2 separate regions of the Homo sapiens genome follow, and region 1 is linked to region 2. Evidence: fine-mapped expression QTL. Tissue or cell type: whole blood. Region 2 holds a variant in brackets; the other region holds the start of a gene. All regions are shown on one strand. Distances are between the middles of the regions.

Region 1 (8,099 bases), 110 kb after region 2:
CACACACCTGTCTTCCCATCTACCCTGTCTCATAAAAAAAAAAAAAAAAAAAAAGCCAGGAGCGGTGGCTCATGCCTGTAATCCTAGCACTTTGGGAGACCGAGGCAGGTGGAACTCAGGAGTTCAAGACCAGCCTGGGCAACATGGCAAAACCCTGTCTCTAATAAAAATACAAAAAAATTAGCCGGGGCTGGGCGCGGTGTCTCACACCTGTAATCCCAGCACTTTGGGAGGCTGAGGCGGGCGGATCACCTGAGGTCAGGAGTTCAAGACCAGTCTGGTCAACATGGTGAAACCCCATCTCTACAAAAATACAAAAATTAGATGGGCGTGGTGGTACATGCCTATAATTCCAGCTACTTGGGAGGCTGAGGCATGAGAATCACTTGAACCTGGGAGGCAGAGGTTGCAGTGAGCCGAGATCATGCCACTGCACTCCAGCCTGGAAGATGAAGTGAGGCATGGGAATCACTTGAACCTGGGAGGCAGAGGTTGCAGTGAGCTGAGATCATGCCACTGCACTCCAGCCTGGATGACGAAGTAAGACTCTGTCTCAAAGAAAAAAAAAAGATGTGGCAAACTCTCTGCTTGAATATCTGCAATGATGGGTAACTCACTCCCTCACAAGGCAGCCCATTTTGTTTTTAGAAAGCTACATTATCTCCTATCAAACCAAAGTCTACCTTCTTGGAAATTATGTCATTTAATCCTGAGATGCCTTCTAGAATCACAGAGAACATCCAGTTTCCTTTCCCCATGACAATCTTCAAGTATTTGAATGAGGTATCATGTTCCCCCAGGCTCTTAGCCTTGGTCTTTTCAGTTCTTCTTCATGTGTCACAGTCCCAGAGGCAATTCAATATCACAGAGCAGAGAGACCTGGGTTTGAATTCCAGTCCTTCCTCTTACTTGCTGTGTGACCTTAAGCAAATAACTTAATTTCTCTGAATCTGTTTCTTCATAGGTATAATAGGGAAAATGATTCTCACCTCACAGGACAGTCATGAAGGTTACACTGGATAAAGTAAAAATACTAGCTAGCACTGAGCTCAAGATATACCAGGCCCTGAATAAAATGTCAGTCACTTTTTAGGACATATCCCAACTGGCAAATACCTCTCAAAGTAAATTAACTACACCAAGGAACTGGCTTCTTTCTTTTTTTTCTTTTCTTTTCTTTTTTTTTTTTTTGAGATGGAGTTTCACTTTTGTTGCCCAGGCTGGAGTGCAATGGCACGATCACAGCTCACCGCAACCTCCACCTCCTGGGTTCAAGCGATTTTCCTGCCTTAGTAGGAAAATCCCTCCTGAGTAGCTGGGACTACAGGCGCGTGCCACCATGCCCGGCTAATTTTTTTTGTATTTTTAGTAGAGATGGGGTTTCACCGTGTTAGCCAGGATGGTCTCAATCTCCTGACCTCGTGATCTGCCCACCTCAGCCTCCCAAAGTGCTGGGATTACAGGCGTGAGCCACCGCGCTCAGCCAGGAACTGGTTTCTAATAGCAACTGCCAGAACTTTGGCTTTTCAAGAGATGACAGCTAAGAAAGTACAACCTAAGGGTTTTGTGGGCCCAGCAATCTGCAATGGCAGCCTAAAGATACAGTGGAGCATCTGGAAAGGTGAGGTGGAAAGAAGAAAGGAAACAGAATAGATAACTAAACCAGTGACCCAAAGAAAACACAAGTATCACCAGATTACATGTTCTGTTTGACTTCCTCTCTGAGACTCAGAACTGCACATGTCAGCAACATTCCTTAATTTTTAAAAAGAGAGAAGAGAGTGGTCACGGAGGCCGTGTCTGTAGTCCCAGCTACTAGGAAGGCAGAGGTACGAGAATCCCTTGAGCTCAGGAGTTTGAGACCAGCCCAGGCAACAGAGTGAGACCCCATCTCAAAAAAATAAAAATAAAAGGAGAGGCCAGGTGCGGTGGCTCACACCTGTAATCCCAGCACTCTGGGAGGCCGAGGTCGGTGGATCACGAGGTCAGGAGTTCAAGACCAGCCTGGCCAAGATGGTGAAACCCCATCTCTACTAAAAATACAAAAATTAGCTGGGCATGGTGGCAGGCACCTGCAATCCCAGCTACTTGGGAGGCTGAAGCAGAGAATTGCTTGAACCCAGGAGGCTGAGGTTGCAGTGAGCTGAGATCGCGCCACTGCACTTCAGCCTGGGCAACAGAGCAAGACTCCATCTCAAAAAATAAATAAATAAATACATACATACATAAAGGAGAAAAAAATAAAAATAATTAAAGACCAAGTCATAGTCTAGATCTTCCTTAGCAGTTGGCCCAAGATCCACAAATGTTTGGCAGTGGGCTTCAAGATTTTCAGTTGTCTTTCCAGATCCTAAAGTCTAGGTGTGCAAAAACACCCTACATAAGATGCCCAATGAGTCAATACTGAACTCCTCCCGGCTAAAAAAAACTGTCAATTGTATGAAACTGGTAAATAGTTGTTAACATCATCATCATAATATTTACACGTGTTCTCTCTTTCCCTCGTGACCCTCAATGAAGGTGTCCCAGGCAGAAATATGGGCTACTGCTCAATTATTCGGCAGAGTTGATCCAAAAGCACTGTTCCTTCAAATTGAGATAAGACTCGAACAGAAGTGCTCCCATATAGGTCAAAAAAGGAAAGGAGAGCAGGACTCCAGCCTTAAAGCAGCATGATCACAAACTATGACGGAAAAGGTCATTTCCCACCTGCCAACGAAATACAACAACCTACAATGAAGAAACCTCAGTAAGTCTCAGACTTGGCCCAAAGGAGCCCAACTAGTTACTCCCTGGTCTGTTACAGAGGATCTGGCTATTACACTCAACAGCAAAAATTCAATTCAATCCCGCTAAAGATATAAGAATCACAAGGAAGAATAAGCCAGAACTCAAGACAGAAATAGCATTAAGTAGTTCCTTCAGTACAGTGAGCAGAAGCTGGCCACTCAACGACTCTAAAAGACACAGAAAAGCTTAGTAGGGACCACTGGGCATACCGGTGTCCTAGGTGGGGATTTCGTAACGTCTTTGAGTCAGAAGCTGCCCTCAAAATAGTTTCTTCTCAAAACGGTTTCAGGCTTTGTTAGAAAGGGAAGACTTCACTGCCACTTTACCCAGATCATCTACCCCATCCTTGGAATGAATGGGGAAGCTTCAGCCACCCTACCAGGCTCCTAAAATCACCAACTTGAGAGAAAAACTATAACGTTGCTCTACCAGTACTTCAGGAGGTTAAAGAAAGTCACAGAAGAAAAGAACTCTGGGGAAAACAGTCAAATTCGGCTATTAAGACATTAGTTACAGGCCCCTGTACCTCTCCTCTAGAAACCCTGGGAGTACACCCGCAGAGGAGAGAGAGCCCAAGCCACCAAGCAAAGTCAACCAATCTGGCAAAGGGGCGTCCCACTGCGGCTTTCAGTCCAAGAAGTGGATCCTGCTGGTTCGCAGTCTCTCTTCTATCTCCTCACTTCCTATTTACCCTTTGAAGTGGGTACTGAATAGCCCGTTCCCAAGCAGAGGCCCTTTGTATACGGGGTGCTACAGTCGCCTGGTGGAAACACCTTGGCAGAGTTGTTTGGTGCCAGGATGGGCCACTGAAGGCATCTGCTGTGGACACACACACACACACACACACACACACACACACACACACACAGAAAGAGAGAGAGAAAAACAGAAAGAGAGAGAGCGAGAAGCTAAGAGGGCAGGTCAGGTCGGCGTTGCCCTCCCAGCACTTACACCTGCCCCTTCTTCCTGACTCCGGCGCCAGATCAGATGTCAAACAAAAACTCCGCAAAAAAGTCCCATGATGGAATGACTTCCACCTCTCCCTCCGCAGAGCCTCCCCGGACTCCCACAGCCTCCCCCCGCGTCCCGACCAAACCCTCCGCCCCCACCCCGCCCCCGGACCACTCTGCCCTCCGCCCCGGCGAGGCCTGGCCCCTCTCGGGACACCCGGGGCCCCGAGGCGGGTAGGCTCAGGCCCCCAGGCCGGCAGGGCTGGAGCCGGCCCAGAGCGGGCGGCCCGTTCACCGGGGCTGCGGGAGCCGGTCCCCGCCTCGGCGCCCGCGGAGGGCAGGGGGCGGCGGTGACCCGTACCTGTCAGGTCTCTTCCCCCGACCGGCAGCGGCGCAACTTCAGGAGCCCATGTCCGTCCGGGGGGGGCGGCCCCTCTCCCGGGAAGGGGGGCGCGGATCCCGGGGAGGGGGCTGGGGGGCTCGAGCAGTTCTAGCCCCTTCCCATGCTCCCCGCCCGGCGCCTGGCCGGGGCCGGACAGCGCCTCCGCCCGCCCCTGCGCACCGCCTCACACCCGCGCTCACACACACTCACACTCCCTCGCGCGCTCTCACACACGCACTCCCCTCCCTCCTCCTCCTCTGTTTATCTCCTCCAGCTGTCTGGGGACCCAGGAGAAGCCCAGCAACGCGCCTGCGCCACGCAGTCTCCGCCTCCGCCCTGCGCCTCGCAGCCGGCGGGTACGCTACGAAGACTGCGCCCGGCCGCTTCCAGAATGGCTAGCCGGGCCCCCCCACTTACCCCCCCGCGCCCGGTCAACGTCTGCTGCCGGCGGCGCCCACTAACCTGCTAGTGGGGGAGCCCCGCACCGCCGTGGCCAATGGGCTTCGCCGCTTGCGGGACCGGCAGCCAGTGGGCGGGCGGGAAAGCTGGGCTAAGCCCTGGGGCACCCTGGGAGTCGTAGTTTTTCGCCGTCGAGGAGTTCCTGCAGAGCGGGCTCACCCCGCCCGGTTGCCATTAGTTACCCGGACGCACCTCCCACCCCACCACCGGGTAAAACGCTCCTCACACCGCTTCTGGGACACCCGCCCACACGCTCGCCCACTGAACCCCAGGTCCCCTCACAGCCCCTTAAGAGCTCCTAAGACTTCCTCTCAGCCCCCGAATTCTGGGACCTCTCAGGCTAGGGCCCCGGGGGGCTCCTCAGCCCACTCCTTCCTGCTCTGGGGGGCTGCTGAAGTGGCACAGTCCTCACTGACGTCTCCTGGGCCTTAAGGAAGAGAATGAAAGAGAATCGGGCCTACGCTGAGTAGCCTGGAGAGGAGTCAGCCACACACACTCTGGGTGCCCTCGGGGTGATGGGAGCGACTAGGTCCATCTGACCCTAGCGGAGTCACTGCTGCTCCCACCTCTGAGGAAGAGACGCAGTTCCAGCCTTGTGGAGTCCCGGGTCTGATGGAGGAGAGACCCTCCTCTTTATTAAGGAAGTTCCCAAGGTGACAAGGGTGGCACTAAGCCTATCTTCTTAAGGCAGAGACCAGGCCCCACCCGTGAAACCTCAAGTCAGAAAGGGAAGACGTGTCACCTTCTGACAAAGGAAACTTGTCACCCATAGGGTGCCATTTGTCAGATACTAACAATAATTCACTTTTATTCGCACTGGATTGGGTACAGTCTCTTAGCTAGGTACTATTGCTGTCTGTGTTTTGCAGAAAAGGAAAGCTGAAGCAGAAAGGCTAAAAGCAACTTGCCCCCGGGGTCCTGATAAGTTGGCAAATTGGGAATTAGACCCAGATCTGCCTGACACCAGAGTCTGAGCCTTTTAACACTGCCTGTCTTTCCTGTGAAAACCAGACAGCACCCGCTCTCAGTAAGGACTGAATATATGTATTTGGCATTTATAGTGTTTATCACTCCATGTGTCGCTTGTTTTTTTTTTTTTTTTTTTTTTTTTTTTCCAATTCTGCTCACATCATGAGTACGAATTTGTCTGTGAATACCTGAATACTCCCAGAGACAAAGGTAGTATTCTAATTGCTGGTGATTTCTCCGCAAGGGAGATTTCTCCCCATTTAGAGGAGTAAGAACCTATCCTTGTGAAACCGCTCACAAAGCCTTTTATGCCTTTCTCCTAAAAATATTGTGGGTCATTCCCCCTGAACTCTCCACCACAGCTGTTCTACTGAATATAAAAAATCATAGACTTTGGGACTAGAAGAAAGCTTTGAGATCATCTATCTGCAGCTCCCCAGGTTCAGGCTGCAACCTTGGTTAGGGTCATTGGGTTAATTAAACTGAATAATATCTAACATTTATTGAATACTTACCATGGGAGATAAGTGCTACTAGTGAATTAAGAAATACTCCCGGGCTGGGCGCGGTGGCTCACGCCTGTAATCCCAGCACTTTGGGAGGCAGAGGCGGGCGGATCACGAGATCAGGAGATAGAGACCACCTGGCTAACACGGTGAAACCCCATCTCTACTAAAAATACAAAAAAATTAGCCGGGCGTGATGGTGGGCGCCTGTAGAACCAGCTACTCGGGAGGCTGAGGCAGGAGAATGGCGTGAACCCGGGAGGCGCAGCTTGCAGTGAGCCGAGATCGCGTCACTGCACTCCAGCCTGGGCGACAGAGCGAGACTCCGTCTCAAAAAAAAAAAAAAAAAAAAAAGTAAAAGAAAAAGAAACACTCCCGGCCGGGCGCGGTGGCTCACGCCTGTAATACCAGCACTTTGGGAGGCCAAGGGCGGGTGGATCGCCTGAGGTCGGGAGTTCAAGACCAGCCTGGCCAGCATGGTGAAACCCCGTCTCTACTAAAAATACAAAAATTAGCCGGGCGTGGTGGCGCGTGCCTGTAATCCCAGCTACTCAGGAGGCTGAGGCAGGAGAATCACTTGAATCCTAGAGGCGAAGGTTGCAGTGAGCCGAGGTCGTGCCACTGCACTCCAGCCTGAGCAACAGAGAGAGACTCCATCTCAAAAAAAGAAAAAAGAAAAGAAAGAAAGACAGACTCCCACAATCACATAGCTAGGAAGTGGTACAGTTGGGATTAAAGCCTACACTATTCAAATCCAGAACCCTCATTTTTAAATCATTTTAGCATCCTGTGTTTTTGGCAGAGACCACCCCCCCCCCCACTTTTTTCTTCTTTTTTTGAGACAGAGTCTTGCTCTGTCGCCCAGGCTGGAGTGCAGTGGGGCAATCTCTGCTCACTGCAAGCTCTGCCTCCCGGGTTCACACCATTCTCCTGCCTAAGCCTCCCGAGTAGCTGGGACTACAGGCGCCCGCCACCAGTTTGTCATTTCATTTAGTACAGACGGGGTTTCACCGTACTAGCCAGGATAGTCTCGATCTCCTGACCTCGTGATCCACCCGCCTCTGCCTCCCAAAGTGCTGTCACTACAGACATGAGCCACCGCGCCCGGCCAGAGAACCCCCATTTTAAAGTCTTGTTTAATGCTGGCAAGGTCACAGAGGATCTTAGATATACTGATAGAGAAGAGTGGGTGATGTTTCTGTGACTCCTAGCACAGTCTATGGCACATAGCAGAAACTCAGTAAATATTTGTTGTCAGAATGAACTTTCGTTGGTAGAGACTGATGACAGGAAGAAGACTATTTCTTTTGAGACGGAGTCTTGCTCTGTCGCCCAGGCTGGAGTATAGTGGTGCAATCTCGGCTCACTGCAACCTCTGCCTCCTGGGTTCAAGCGATTCTCCTGTCTCAGCCTCCCGAGTAGCTGGGACTACAGGCACATGCCACGACGCCCGGCTAATTTTTGTATTTTTAGTAGAGATAGGGTTTCACCATAATTGGTCAGGCTGGTCTCAAACTCCTGATCGCAGGTGATCCACCTGCCTTGGCCTCTCAAAGTGCTGGGATTAGAGGCATGAGCCACCTCGCCCCACCAGGAAGAAGACTATTAACAACTGCAGTTACTATTTATTATTTTCTAATAGATACCACTCGTACTCTTACACTTGCTTGAGTTTCTCTCTTTCTCACTTCCTCTCTCTCCATATAGGCAGAGACCTATACATAAATCTATACATACATATGTGTACACGCACGCACACACACCCATATACATTAACACACACTAACTCATTTGCTTCTCCCAACCACGTTGTGAGTTAGGTATGATTCTTACTCCCATTTTACATAGAAGAAACAGAGACTCGGCCAGGCATGGAGGCTCACGCCTGTAATCCCAACGTTTTGGTTCCAGACCAGCGTGGGCAATACGGCAAAATCCTGTCTCTACAAAAAATATAAACATTGGCCAGGCGCGGTGGCTCACGCCTGTAATCCCAGCACTCTGGGAGGCCGAAGCAGGCAGATCACGAGATCAGGAGTTCGA
Region 2 (8,099 bases):
CTCCTCAAGCAGTTTCCAAGGTTTTTTTTTATTTTTTGAGATCGAGTCTCGCTCTGTTTTGCCCAGGTTGGAGTGCAGTGGCGTGATCTTGGTTCACTGCAACCTTCTGGGTTCGAGTGATTCTCCCGCCTCAGTCTCTCAAGTAGCTGGGATTACAGGCACCCACCACCACGCCCGGATAATTTCTTGTACTTTTGATAGAGATGGGGTTTCACCATGTTGGTCAGGCTGGTCTCAAACTCCTGACCTCAGGTGATCCACCCGCCTCAGCCTCTTAAAGTGCTGGGATTACAGGCATAAGCCACCGTGCCTGGCCTGTTTCCAAGGTTTTCAAAGCCTGGGAACCCCCTCTGCAAAATACAGTGTTGCTCAGAAGTACAGTACCTCTGTACTGCAGCCTCTGGCTGCATCAGAGTGGACACCCAGAAGTGACCCGCCCACCTCCATTTCACTCTCTAACAGTGGGGGCAGCACCTGGAGGCACCCCTAGAAGTCCCCTAGAAGCTTACACTGAACTATAAGTTCCCAGCCAAGCCCCACAGCCTGGCCTCCCAGGTTCTCTATGGAAGGACCCTTGCAGCCCTCAGCCTCAGCTTTTCAACAAGTCCTATAGGCGCCAGTCACGCTGAAATGCAGCTCCTCAAAGGTGTCCTCAACTTCCCTGACTCCAGGCCTTTGCTCAAACCGTCCCCTTCACCCCTGCTCAGTGGTGAAAGCCCAGGCTGCGTGATCAAAGGTTGATTAGTAAGGGTTTGTGGAGGTTGGGCACTCCACTGCAGGCAAAAGAATGGGAAGCCCGGAGGGCCAGCACTCCTCACCATTGTACGTAAGTGTCCAGGGATCCTGCCCGCAGCGGCAGGAGGTCCCGAGCCTCCTTCACCCAGAAGTGCAGCTCCCCGCTCGGGGGCAGTCCTGCGCCTGCGGAGAGGCTCGGCTCAGGCCCGCACACGGATGGAGTCCACCGCCCCCAAACCCGGGGACTGGAGTCTCCCGCTTTTCAGGGCGTGTCCAGCTTGGCCTCTCCGGCTGTCACTCACCCTCGGAGCCGGCGGGGACGTACTTGAGGGACAGGGCGAGTAACCCGCGGCTCGGAAGGTCGTCGGGAGAGGGTGGGACCTGCGAGAGGCGGGCTTATCGTGGAGCAGGGGCTAATGGAAAGGGGCCTCAGGAGGGTGGGGTCTGCAGACCCGGATGGGGTGCGGCTAGAAGAGACGGCGGGGCCTGCAGGGGCAGAACCTAGGGGTCCTAGCGCCCTCGGGGAAGGGGCCGTGGCCGGCCGGGCTTCGCCTGGGGCCATGAGGTTAAGAGGTTGAGGGGAGGTTCTGTCGAAGGCGGGGTGTGAGGGGGCTGCGGGAGAGCCTGGTGGGGTAAATGCAGGAGACCCGGGCCGCAGGTCTCCCCACGCGGCCTGGCTGCCTCACCCGGGGCTGCAGGGGGAGCCAGGTGGGCTCAGAGCCCCAGTCCCACGTGTCCAGGGGCACTTCAACTTCGCCCAGAAAGATGTTGCGACCCAGGCTTTCGCGGTGCCACACAGACAGGCTCAGCACGCGGCCCTGAAGCTCGGCCTGCGGGACGGAGTACTGAGGACAGGAGGTGAGCTTTAGTGGAGCACTGCTGGTGGCCCGCGTAGATGCTGCGCGAGTTGGCTGAGGCAGGTCCTACCGCGTTCCTACCATGATGGAATTCTGGGGAGCCCCTAAGGGCATTAATGGGGACCTGCACTATCACCACGCCCACCACGAGGCTGACAACACTGGATAACGAGTTAATGGGCCCCCTCCGCCGATCCTCCGGGCAATGACGTTACTGGCTGCCCTTGCCACCTAGCCCCGCAGGAAGGGGGCGTCCAGTTCATTAACGGGGAACCGCATCGTGGTCACAGCCTCACCCGGAGAGTCTCGTTGAAAACCGGATTCAGATTCCGTTTCTTCACCGCCGTCTTGCGCTTGCTCTGCTTATCCGGGAGGAGGTAGCTTTTGACGTAGCTGGGGAGGTGAGAACCCGAGGTGAGGAGGGGCCCTCCCAGAGCCTTCTCCCCTGCCTGTGGGCTCCCCCAGCCACCATCCCGAACACGTGCCAGGCCTCGTGCTAAGCGCTTTACAGGGATTGTCTCGCTTAATCGCACGCCTCCCAATAACGCTGTTGTTCCCATTTTGAAGATGAGGACGAGGAGGCCGAGACCCTGTGAATGGTGGGCTGGGCTGTGACAGCCGCGCCCCGCTTGGCCGGCGGGGCACTCACGGGTCCGAGCGGCGGCGCCGGGCGGCGGCCAGGCCCTGGCACTGGATCACGTGCACGCGCAGCTCGGCGGCGCCCGGCTCGTAGTGCAGCGCGAAGTGCACGGAGCCGCGGACCTGCACCGCCTCCGCGTCGCCTGACAGGCTCATCTGGCTGCCGCTCAGCTGCGGACGGGAGTGGGTGGGAGTCAGGGCCGCTCGCAGGGCTCACGTCGGGGCCGCGGGCAGCGCGGAGGCTTCAGACCCGGGTCATAGGTGGCAGGCTGGGGGGCTGCAGCGGTGGGTCCCGCGGCGAGGGAGGGGCAGGCAGGGGCTACGCATCGGAACGGGTCCACCCCCCGGCCGCCCGGGTCCCCTCCCTCCCGCCTCACCGTGGAGGAGTTAAGGCTGGACACCGAGGAGCTGCTGCTGAGCATGCGGTCGAGAGAGGGGTCGGGCCCCGGGGCCTCCTCCCCATTCTCCAGGATCTGGGACGCGGCCTTGGTCTGCAGAGGGGGCAAGTGACGGGGCGCCCCTTCTTTCCCCACCCCTGCCCCGAGCGCCCTGGGTCGCGGGCGGCTCGCAGCCCTGGGCAGGAGCGCTCCCCGCCCGGAGTCCGCTCCGGATGTTGAGAGCAGCCACGGGCCACTCCCGCCTACCTGGGCTTGCTGGGGCCGCGGCTCCTGCTCTCCCCCCGACGCGGGCTCCAGCTCCGGGTCAGCCTCCTCGGCACAGACCTGTTGGTCTCCTTGGCCAGGATCTGGGGTGGGGCACGAGATGCTAAGCGAGCCCTCTCCTGCCCTCCCCTAAGCAAATTTGTAGGAACTGGTTTACAACCCCAGCGAGCTGCAGATTCAGGCCCCGGTGCTGCCCTGGGATCGTCCCCACCTCCGACGCGGGGTGGGAGTGGGGGTGACGAGGGTGAACACAGGTGGTTGGGGCCCCTTAGAGCTGCCTCTGACCCGCGAAACCTCTCCGTGCTCCCCAACAGGCGCTCCCACTCACCTTCCTGGGCCTGGGACGCCTCCTCAGGATCTGAAGCCTTTAGGGGGACAGAAGGCGATGGGAAATCAGGTCCCTGAAGGAAGAAAGGGGTAGAGGTCACAGTACGGGGGCTGGTGAGGAAGAGGTCAAAGGTCATATTGGGGTCAGAGGTCATAGGGCTCCAGCCAGCTACCCCAGTTTCAGGTTTAGGGCAGCCCTCCGGGCAGGGCTGGCAGCCAGCTGCAGGAGCGGTGAGACCAGTGCTTCACAGCCCACCCCGCAGGGCTTGTGCCGCCTGACTCCCTACTCCCATTGGTGGGGTCATTCGTACCTGAGTCCTCCACCTCTGCCAGGCCAGGCCAGTCCCATTCCTTTCTCACTCCTTTTTTTATTTTTATTTTTTATATTGACCCATTGGTAGACAACCTTTTTTCTTTTTTT[A/T]AATTTATTCTTATTATTTTTAATTGAGACAGAGTTTCACTCTTGTTGCCCAGGCTAGAGTGCAATGGTGTGATCTTGGCTCACTGCAACCTCCGCCTCCTGGGTTCAAGCGATTCTCCTGCCTCAGCCTCCCAGTAGCTGAGATTCCAGGTTATGCACCATCATGCCCAGCTAATTTTGTATTTTTAGTAGAGATGGGGTTTCTCCATGTTAGTCAGGCTGGTCTTGAGCTCCTGACCTCAGGTGATCTCGGCTTCCCAAAGTGCTGGGATTATAGGCGTGAGCTGCCACGACCGGCCTTTTTTTTTTATTTATTTTTTATAGACATGGGGGGCATTTTGCTATGTTGCCCAGGCTGGTCTTGAACTCCTCGGCTCAAGCGATCCTCCCACATCAGCCTCCCAAAATGCTGGGATTACAGGCATGAGCCACCGTGCCTGGCCCCACTTCACCCCTTAATAGCCAGATTCAGAAGTTCCCTTAGAGGCTGGGTCCATATACCACTCACTGTTCACCACCGTTCACCACTGTTTACCACCATTCACCACCGTTCCCCACCGTTCACCACTGTTCCACCCAGGAGGTGATGAGGTGCAGACACAGGAAGGAACATTTCCAGGGTCTCCCCATTCCCAGGCTGGGGCTCTTTCCCCCCTGCCCCCTGCACATTCCACCTCCCCTCCAGGGACACTGTACTCACATGTTGGCTCATTCACTTACCTCAGTCTCCCTGAGCCTCTCCTGAGGGGCCTCATCAATGGTGAGCCTAGGAGTAGGGAGAGGACGCTCTCAGAGGGAGGGACCCTGGTGACTGGTGGGCACCATCTCCCCCTTCCTGAGACTCCTCCTCACCTGGGCTCTGGCCCCTCTTCCTTCTCTTTCACAGCAGCCTCAGCCTCCCTGTCGTGGCCTGGAGCCTGGTCTCCTGGGCGCAGGTGAGAAGTTCTGTGAGCCCCCATGCTCAGGAAGCCTGGCTGTGACTCGGGAGAGGCCCTGGGAGATACCCACCCACCCCATGCCCACGGAGGGGCATTGCCCACTGAAAGACACACAGTACTGGGGGCAGCCAGGACTGGAGCCCTAGTGGTCCTCTCTCCCTGTCCACATACAGCCAGCGCCCTGGACGGCACATGGCTTGCCCTGCCCCGAGGATCTCCTCTCACCCCTGGTGCTCTTCTTCCTGCGCATAGACGCTCGGACAAGGTCAGAGCCGAAGTGGGCATTGTGGTGCCGCTGGGAGCGTGCTTCCTGGAACCAGTCCCCTGTCAGGATCTTCAGCTGCCCAGGGTCTGCCACTGAGGCCCGGAGCTTGCTGGAGGAAGGGGGAGGGTGTGGCTGTCATGACTCACCCAAGCAACATTCCCGCCACCTACATTGTTAACAGGCTTGGGACCAGGGGCCAGGGACCCAACAGCAAATCAGACTTGATCTGTGCTGTGGAGGAGCTCGGGCTGCTGGGGAGACCAAGTCCAGAAGAGACAAGTACACTGTAGTGAGGTGGATGATGTGATAGAAGTAAGAAGAGCCAGCTCTGCCTGTGAGAATCCAGGAGGGCTTCCCAGAGGAGGTGACATTTGAATTGCCTTTATTTATTTATTTACTTAATTATTTTGAGATGGAGTCTCCCTCTATGCCCAGGCTGGAGTGCTGTGGCGCAATCTCAGCTCACTGCAACCTTCACCTTCCAGGCTCAAGTGATCCTCCCACCTCAGCCTCCTGAGTAGCTGGGACTACAGGCGTGTGCCACCATGCCCAGCTAATTTTTTATATATTTTTTTGTAGAGACGGGGCTTTTCCATGTTGCCCAGGCTGGTCTCTAACTCCTGGACTCAAGCAATCCACCTGCCTCAGCCTCCCACAATGTTGTAAGTCACTGTGCCCAGCCTTGAATTTCTTCTTAAAAGACAAATTGGAACTCTCCAGGTAGAGAAGGATAATAATTATTATACTTTTAATTTTATTATTTTTTTTTGAGACAGGGTCTTGCTCTGTTGCCCGGGCTGGAGTGCAGTGGCATGATCATGGCTCATTGCAGCCTGACCTCCTGGGTTCAAGCAATCCTCTCACCTCAGCTGCCTAAATAGCTGGGACTACAGGCGCACACCACCACGCCAGGCTAATTTTTTATATTTTGTAGGAATGGGGTCTCACTGTGTTGTCCAGGCTGGTCTTGAATTCCTGGGCTCAAGCAATCCTCCCGTCTCAGCCTCTCAAAGTGCTAGGATTACAGGCGTTGCCACTATCTCTGGCCAATTCCTCTTAAATCAGTGAAGTAGGACTCCTTAGCCCCATTTTACAGACGACGAGCATGGTGCTCAAGGAGGTCAGGTGAGTTGCCAAGGCTACGTAGCTAGGAAGTGTCTGTCCCCAAACATTGCTTGTAACGCCCATGCTCTTCTACAACTGTGCTCTTCCAGGAAGAAGTACCAGCATAGGCATAGAAGTGAAGAGTGGGTTCAGGGACTGGGGAGCACCTGAGTGGCTGGAGGGGTCACTTTGTGTCTGTGTGTCGGGTCGGAGTTATGGTGAAAGAGGAGATGGTGGGGGCTGGCAAGGACCGACCAGGGAGGCCCAGTGGACCATGCCTAGGAGCTTGCCCTTGATACTGGGGAGCCAGGGGAAGTTTTCAGCGGGGATATTAAGGACGGATCTGGCCAGGCACGGTGGCTCGCGTCTGTAATCCCAGCACTTTGGGAGGCTGAGGCGGGTGGATCATCTGAGATCAGAGGTTCAAGACCAGCTTGGCCAACATGGCGAAAACCCATCTCTACTAAAAATACAAAAATTAGCTGGGCATGGTGGCATGTGCCTATAATCCCAGCTATTTGGGAGGCTGTGGCAGGAGAATCGCTTGAACCCGGAGGGGTGGAGGTTGCAGTGAGCCAAGATTGTGCCACTTCACTCCAGCCTGGGCGAAAAAATGAAACTCTGTCTCAAGAAAAAAAAAAAAAAGCAGACAGATCTGGGGAGCACCAGCTGCAGGAGGTGGGCCCAAGAGGCAAGCCTGGAGGCAGGGAGGCTGGCGAGAAAGCTGGTGCAGTCACCCCTGGAGAAGTGATGAGCTGTGAGCTGGCCAAGGCCAGAGGAGACTGAAGGGCAAAACCAAGAACCACGCAGACATCTGACAGGCAGTGGTGTCGGTAGGGAGCAGGATGGGGGCCACTCAAGCCTCTTGGTGCTCCCCGGCCAGGGTCTGCCCTGCCTTACCTGACCCGCCCCTCCTCCAGCTGGCGCAGGCGGGCATCTCGTTGGAGGACGCCAGCAATGGCCTCCTGCTCCTCCTCTGTCAGGAAGCTGAGGTCCAACAGTCCTTCAGTCTCAGGCTTTGGCCCATGCGCCATGGGGAGGGAGGGCAGAGCCCAAAGCCCCTCTTGCGATGGGTGGCCCCTCTGGGGCATCAGCTGGGGCTGTGCCCCAGCTGGGCACACGGAGCTTCCTGGGGGCAGACCGAGGGTCAGGTCAAGCCCTGCACAAATGCTTGGCACATCCTAGAACCAACAGCCCTTTTCTCCCCAAACACTTGGCCGGGTATGGGTAGGGTGCCACCCCAGGATGGCTGAGCTCAAGGTGGGGTGAGAGACACTCATGCACACATGCATACACTAGCCCTTGAACACACTTGGAGACACAGTGGAAGAAGCAAGAGACACACATGCACACACCCTGAGGTAGGGCCACACAGGACTGCAGCGATGGAACACACAGACACATGTGCACACGCGGGTCCATGTAGGCATAGATATGGTCGCACATGCACACAGACACCTGCATAAAGACAGGCGCATGCACAGCTGTTCCCCCAGAAAGGGCCCTCTGCAGACACAGACCCGGACCCATGCCCACGAGAGACATGCACACACATTCTTTTTTTTTTTTTTTTTTTTTTTTTTGAGGAGTCTTGCTTTGTTGCCCAGGCTGGAGTACAGTGGCACGATCTCATCTCACTGCAACCACTGCCTGACGGGTTCAAACCTCCTGCCTCAGCCTCCTGAGTAGCTGGGATTATAGGCACGCACCATCACGCCCAGCTAATTTTTGTATTTTTAGTAGAGACGGGGTTTGACCATGTTGGCCAGGCTGGCCTCGAACTCCTGACCTCATGATCTGCCAGCCTCAGCCTCCCAAAGTGCTGGGAGTACAGGCGTGAGCCACCACGCCCGGCCCTACACATGTTCTTAAATCTGCACACAGTGGCCAGGCGCGGTGGCTCACGCCTGTAATCCCAACACTTTGGGAGGCCAAGGTGGGCCGATCACCTGAGGTCAGGAGTTCAAGACCAGCCTGGCCAACATGGTGAAACCCCCTTCTCTACTAAAAATACAAAAATTATGGCCAGATACAGTGGCTCACCCCTGTAATCCCAGCACTTTGGGATGCCAAGGCGGGCAGATCACCTGAGGTCAGGAGTTTGAGACCAGCCTGACCAACACGGAGAAACCCCGTCTCTACTAAAAATAC

Evidence for each region. PIP is the estimated chance that this variant, and not a neighbour inherited with it, causes the effect.
Region 1: WDTC1 starts here. The variant in region 2 is fine-mapped to the expression of WDTC1 in whole blood (TOPMed, PIP 0.95).

What each region holds. Positions count from the first base shown.
Region 1 is chr1:27,230,954-27,239,052 of GRCh38, reverse strand. It overlaps WDTC1 (WD and tetratricopeptide repeats 1), which reads right to left and starts at 4,421. Exons shown (of 16, transcript NM_001276252.2): 1 at 4,102-4,421. WDTC1-DT (WDTC1 divergent transcript) reads left to right here and starts at 4,624. Exons shown (of 3, transcript XR_947117.2): 1 at 4,624-4,791; 2 at 5,451-5,608. RefSeq lists silencers at 3,742-3,791, 3,952-4,001, 4,192-4,341, 4,542-4,601.
Region 2 is chr1:27,344,275-27,352,373 of GRCh38, reverse strand. It overlaps SYTL1 (synaptotagmin like 1), which reads right to left. Exons shown (of 15, transcript NM_001193308.2): 2 at 6,849-7,077; 3 at 4,805-4,953; 4 at 4,494-4,566; 5 at 4,362-4,407; 6 at 3,222-3,294; 7 at 2,876-2,976; 8 at 2,609-2,722; 9 at 2,242-2,402; 10 at 1,889-1,985; 11 at 1,422-1,580; 12 at 1,038-1,116; 13 at 819-918. The coding sequence starts at 7,039. Among named protein-coding and RNA genes, the nearest start is that of SYTL1, 6.3 kb to the right of the region's middle. RefSeq lists silencers at 2,389-2,448, 2,549-2,858 and enhancers at 4,238-4,776, 4,777-5,317. The variant A/T (reference allele first, on the strand shown) is at 3,642.